Regions from separate parts of the Homo sapiens genome. Here region 1 is linked to region 2. The links come from fine-mapping of genetic effects on gene expression. A gene starts in region 2. The other region holds a variant in brackets. All regions are shown on one strand. Distances are between the middles of the regions.

Evidence for each region. PIP is the estimated chance that this variant, and not a neighbour inherited with it, causes the effect.
Region 1: its variant is fine-mapped to the expression of TPD52L2 in whole blood (INTERVAL, PIP above 0.99). The same link has a PIP of 0.9 or more in sun-exposed skin.

What each region holds. Positions count from the first base shown.
Region 1 is chr20:63,887,883-63,890,781 of GRCh38, reverse strand. It overlaps TPD52L2 (TPD52 like 2), which reads right to left. Exons shown (of 7, transcript NM_003288.4): 6 at 1,544-1,592; 7 at 1-932. The coding sequence ends at 837. Among named protein-coding and RNA genes, the nearest start is that of DNAJC5, 5.8 kb to the left of the region's middle. The variant G/A (reference allele first, on the strand shown) is at 1,093.
Region 2 is chr20:63,863,874-63,866,772 of GRCh38, reverse strand. TPD52L2 (TPD52 like 2) reads right to left here and starts at 1,503. Exons shown (of 7, transcript NM_003288.4): 1 at 1,389-1,503. The coding sequence starts at 1,407. ABHD16B-AS1 (ABHD16B antisense RNA 1) reads left to right here and starts at 1,700. Exons shown (of 2, transcript NR_165314.1): 1 at 1,700-1,949; 2 at 2,503-2,899. RefSeq lists enhancers at 52-771, 1,493-2,213, 1,253-2,452, 2,546-2,775 and a silencer at 2,036-2,085.

The DNA.
Region 1 (2,899 bases), 24 kb before region 2:
GTACACTGGGATGGAGTGTGCGTGACATAAAACACCTCAACTGGAAGAGGCTGCCACGCAGGCCAGGTGTAAAATTCCACACAATGCTCACAACCATTAAGGAACCCTCATCTATATACATATAAAAATTAGAAAGAAATAAAGCATAAGGCAATGTAAGGCTTGTATTTCAGCTTGAGTCCAAAGAAATAATATTCTATGAGGCTAAAGCTGCTTTGCCTAATTTAAACTTTTTGAAAAGTCCACTGCATTTAAAAAATAATGAATTTGCTTCCGTTAAAGCTAGATTCGCGTAACAATCAGGCAGCTGCTGAGGGTCAGTTTCCTTTCTGGGGGTCTCAGAAAATGGACAGTTTTCTCGTTCGGCATTTTGAGATAAAAAATTGCGTAACAGGTAGGACTTGCTGGGTGATTGCATTCCTTCTGTGAGTCAGGGAAGGAGGAGGAGGAAGAAGTCAGAAAATGCCACTTATTTTATGCTTAGAACTCTTCAATCCTTCAACATTCTGATGGGCTAACATGATTCCCAAAGGGAGCCTGGGCTTTGGCTCAATATTCTTTCAAACCCTCCGCCCTGTCCACTTCCTGCACCCCTAGGAAGGACAGCACAGTGATCTGTTTCATCTACAAACGTGAGTGTAAAACATCTGTGTACAAGCCTGTGTTCTTCAAATTCATGCAAACGCGGCAGCCACATCTCCGCGTGGATGGGCAGGACTGTCCTCAGGGCCGGCTCTGCTCATCCGCCCTGGCTGGCTGCTCCGCTGAACAGAGCTGCGGCTGTGATGCTGAGGCTGGGTTGCGTGTGCTCTGCAGCGGGTGAAGCAACCACAGGCTTAGAAAGGTGCGGGATCCGACAGGGGCTTGTCACCACTCCCCGCTGAGGAAGGGAGGTTGTCACTGCCGTTCTCTCTGTCACCCACAACCTTAGACTACAGGAGAGAAAAGATGAAGACAGAAAAACCTGAGACAGAGCACACAACACAAGGCAGATCCCAGGCCCATGCTCAATGCTCTACAAAAGCTTATGTAACACGAACACTGCTCAGCAGGGACAGGGAGCAAATCACGGACGGGCACCAGCCCCAACAG[G/A]TCTCCAGAGAACGATGCCAAATGAAGACAGTGAATGCCAAAAAGCTGCACACTGTATCGTTCCATTTACGTGACATTCTTGAAATGACACAATTATACAAAGGGAGAGTGGACTAGGGGTTGCCGGGGGTAGGGCGGGAGGAAGGTCAGCATGGCCAAGAAGGTACCAGGAAGGGCAGTGGGGACCAGGAAGGGCAGTGGGGACCAGGAAGGGCAGTGTGGAGGCGTTCTGTGTCCTGAGTCAGTGCCAATGTCCTGGTGGGGAGGCTGCACTACAGGATTTTCCAAGATGTCGTCACAGGAGAGAACTGTGTAAAAGGCACAAGGAACCTCTCTGCATTACTTCCCACAACTGTATGTGAGTCTACCATAACTAAATGACTAATAATAAACAAGTTGCTGTAACAGGTCACACCTTGCCAAGACCATCAAACAGTCCAGGTACAATTACCTTTATGGTCCCAACTCGGTCCTCAAACGACTTGAAGGTCGCAGAGTTCCTTTAAAGAGAGAGGGAAGAGTGTCGGTGTCAAGAGGAGAGGGTTGTGCTGCTCTCCTAACTCGGAAGGGCCTCAGGGTTAGGGCCAGCCTCCAAAGGGTCCCTAACAACATCCCAAGATCTCATGGCAAAACTGTGAGACAGCCAGGTCATTCCGGAGACTCCCCAGGTCAAAAGTGAGGTCGGCCATGCCCAACAACCACAGGGACAGGTCCAGACGTCACACAAGGCAACTGGAAACCCCTTGACTGTGCAGCTGGGGAGATGTCGGCCCCTCTCTGTCATACCCTACAGGGACATCCCGGGCTCTCGTACTGAGGTTATGAAAAGTCTGTGCAGTTGGGGGGCTGTCGGCCCCTCTCTGCTGTCCCCTACAGGGACACCCCGGGCTCTCGTACTGAGGTTATGAAAAGTCTGCGCAGTTGGGGGGCTGTCGGCCCCTCTCTGCTGTCCCCTACAGGGATACCCCGGGCTCTCGTACTGAGGTTATGAAAAGTCTGTGCAGTTGGGGGGCTGTCGGCCCCTCTCTGCTATCCCCTACAGGGACACCCTGGGCTCTCGTACTGAGGTTATGAAAAGTCTGCGCAGTTGGGGGGCTGTCGGCCCCTCTCTGCTGTCCCCTACAGGGATACCCCGGGCTCTCGTATTGAGGTTATGAAAAGTCTGTGCAGTTGGGGGGCTGTCGGCCCCTCTCTGCTATCCCCTACAGGGACACCCTGGGCTCTCGTACTGAGGTTATGAAAAGTCTGCGCAGTTGGGGGGCTGTCGGCCCCTCTCTGCTGTCCCCTACAGGGACACCCTGGGCTCTCGTACTGAAGTTATGAAAAGTCTGTGCAGTTCTTCATGCACATCTCTCAGAGAAGCAAACGGAAGACCAAGGACACTTCTGGGACAGCAGAGTGATAAGGAGACAAGAGGAGAAAGCAGGCCAGCTCCATCCCACTCAGTCCCTCCCACACAAACAGATACCCCTCCCAGGCCCGGGGACTCTAGAGGCCAGCACGTCTGCGACACCCAGCCAGAGTCCCCACAAGGAGAACAGGGCTCTCCTGAGAATCAGGGCGGTGCCTGACGGCGCAGGCACAGAATAGGGACCACAGTTCTGGGCTCTCCTGAGAATCAGGGCAGTGCCTCACGGCACAGGCACAGAATCCTGAGAATCAGGGTGGTGCCTGACAGGCACAGAATAAGGACCACAGCTCTGGGTGTTTCCGTGAAGGCTGAGACCGTGAAGTGTCCTGAGTGACAGCCCACCAGGGCAAGTGCCAGGATCTGTGTGCGAGCCCCTCGAACCCCACCCCACCCACT
Region 2 (2,899 bases):
AAAAAAAAAAAAAAGGCCAGGCGCGGTGGCTCACGCCTGTAATCCCAGCACTTTGGGAGGCCGAGGTAAGCAGATCACGAGGTCAGGGTATCAAGACCGTCATGGCTAACAGTGAAACCCCGTCTCTACTAAAGATACAAAAAATTAGCCGGGCATGATGGCGGGCGCCTGTAGTCCCAGCTAGTTGGGAGGCTGAAGCAGGAGAATGGCAGTGAACCCGGGAGGCGGAGCTTGCAGTGAGCCGAGATCTAGCCACTGCGCTCCAGCCTGGGCGACAGAGTGAGACTCCATCTCAAAAAAACAAAAACAAACAAACAAAAAACACCCTCCAGAATAATGCAGCACCTAGGAATTATAAAGCTTAATATGTAGCCGGGCACAGTGGCTCACGCCTGTAATCCCAGCACTTTGGGAGGCTGAGGCGGGCGGATCACAAGGTCAAGAGATCGAGACCATCCTGGGCAACATGGTGAAACCCTGCCTCTACTAAAAATACAAAAATTAGCTGGGCCTGGTGGCGCGTGCCTGTAGTCCCAGCTACTCAGGAGGCTGAGGCAGCAGAATCGCTTGAACCCGGGAGGTCGAGGTTGCAATGAGCTGAGATCGCGCCACTGCACTCCAGCCTGGCGTCAGAGCAAGACTCCGTCTCAAAAAAATAAAGAAAGAAAGAAAGAAAGAAAGAAATTTAGCATCCCTCTCTAGAGCCCCAAAATGCAAGGCAGACTTTTATCATCTTCTCAAGATTTTAATCTCCTGGGCTCGCTCCACGCCCCTCAGTGGCCATCTCATACTGCTCTGGGGAGACTGTTCTGGAAACAGGCCTGGTATGCTGGGTGTGCCCCTGACTCACTCCACCCCCTCTCCATGAGGCAACCCCTAAGCAGGCTGAGCTCCGAGCAGAGTTGCTGCCCAAGGGGAGCTCTGCTGAACGCGAAGACCCCTTCTCTGCTCGGGAGCCGCCCTCAACACCTCGGACTGGGTCCAGGGCCAGACAGCGTGAACCCGAGGGCCCCGCGCAGGGACCGGGGGGTGGCAGAGCAAGCAAGAGCAGGGCACGGGGTGGGCGGCATAAGCGAGACCTGCTGGGAGCGACAGAACCCAAACTACGGGAGCAACGGCGGGCGCCAGGGAACCACACCTCGGAACGGTCCCAGGGGAGACCAGGAGGGCGGCTGGAGAGAGCCCAGGAAGCGGTCTGGGCCGCGGGCAAAAAACACACCACGACCATCATAAGCTTCGAGGTCAGTGGCCCCGGGAGCTGAAGAGGGGCCGCGGGGTGGGTGAACCGAGACCGAGAGGACAGAGAGTCGCAGACGCGACCCCGGGAGACGGAGAACAACGGGCAGCCTGGGCCCATCTGCGGCGAAGGGGCCGGGCCCGGCAGGTACCTTGGCCGGCGGAGTCCATGTTCGGGCGGCGTCCGGACCGCTGTCGCGGGCGCTATGGGAGCCGAGCGGGCGGCGCCGGGAGAAGCTCGCCGCGTACACACTAGCCAGCGGAACTGCCTCAGCTCCGCGGCGTTTCGTAATCCGCGATGCGACGGCTACTTCCGCCCGGGCACGTGCTCCGCCTTCTTCCCGCCCCCACCAGTGATATCCAATGAGAGTGCCGCTTGGCCCGTCCTGGTTTACCCGACTCAACCTGATAGGCCGAAACTGCGGGCGAACCAGGAAAGGGAGGCGTGGTTCGGCGGGAATCCATTCCAGGTTGACTCCACCAGCGAGAATCACAGGTAGAACGGTCAGAGTAGCGGGAGGACTGGGAAGGTGGGAAGTGGGAGGACCGTCCAACATGGCGCTGTGGAAAGCCAGCGCAGGGCCCCAGGGGATCTTCCGGGGCGGATGCAGCTGCCTAGGAGTGCTGGGGCTCGCGCGCCTCGGCGGCTCAAACTCTGACCCCTTGAGATCCTTTCCAGCCCGACCCCTTACTTTAGGGGTCAGCCTGCCCCCGTAAGTCCTGTTATTTATTGTATTTATATTCTTTTTTTAGTTGGTCCTTTTTTGTTTGTTTTTGAGACGGAGTTTCACTCTTGTTGCCCAGGCTGGAGTGCCATGGCGCGATCTCAGCTCACTCCAATCTCTGCCCTCCGGGTTCAAGCGATTCTCCAGCCTCAGCCTCCCGAGTAGCTGGAATTACAGGCGCGCGCCAACACGTCCGGCTAATTTTCGTATTTGTAGTAGAGACGGGGGTTTCGCCACCTTGGCCAGGCTGGTCTAGAACTCCTGACCTTAGGTGATCCACCCGCCTCGGCCTCCTAAAGTGCTGGGATTACAGGCGTGAGCCACCGCCCCTCACGCCTGGCTAGTTTGTCCTTTTCATGGGGACTTTTTATTGTACGCGGGTTACTCTGAAAAAGATCGCGATTCGTCCCCTCGCCCTGCAGGCGCCGCTGCCGCCTCGCCTCGGGCGTGGACCCTGCGGCTCGGGCCTGCGCGTGTGCACCCCGAGGTTGTCTCACTTCCTGTTCAGGGCGACCAGCGCTGCGCCCTCCCCACTCCACAGATGAGGAAGCTGAGGTTAAAGTCACTTGCCCCAGGTCACTCCGCAAGTTGAAGCGCAACCAGGATACTCTGGAACAGGATGCCTGACTTCAGAGGAGAGGCGCGTAACCACCAGGCAACTGGCCCCACGAAAACAAGTCCCGCAACTTCCCTTCTTTGGCTCCTACTTGCTCCCGGAAGAAAAGCCTTAAACGGTATTCAAGCCCTTTAGGATCTGATGTCCTAGGACTCCACTCTGGGCTTCCAGCCTGGGGTGGTACTGGTCCCTAGGCATGGAAGCTCCTCCCACTGCCCCTTCCTTCACCCGGCCACCTCCTCCCACAGGTGTCTTCCTGGTACTCTTGCACAGGCCCGAGTCCCTTACCACCACGGCCTTAGCCTGCTCTCGTGCTCTCAGT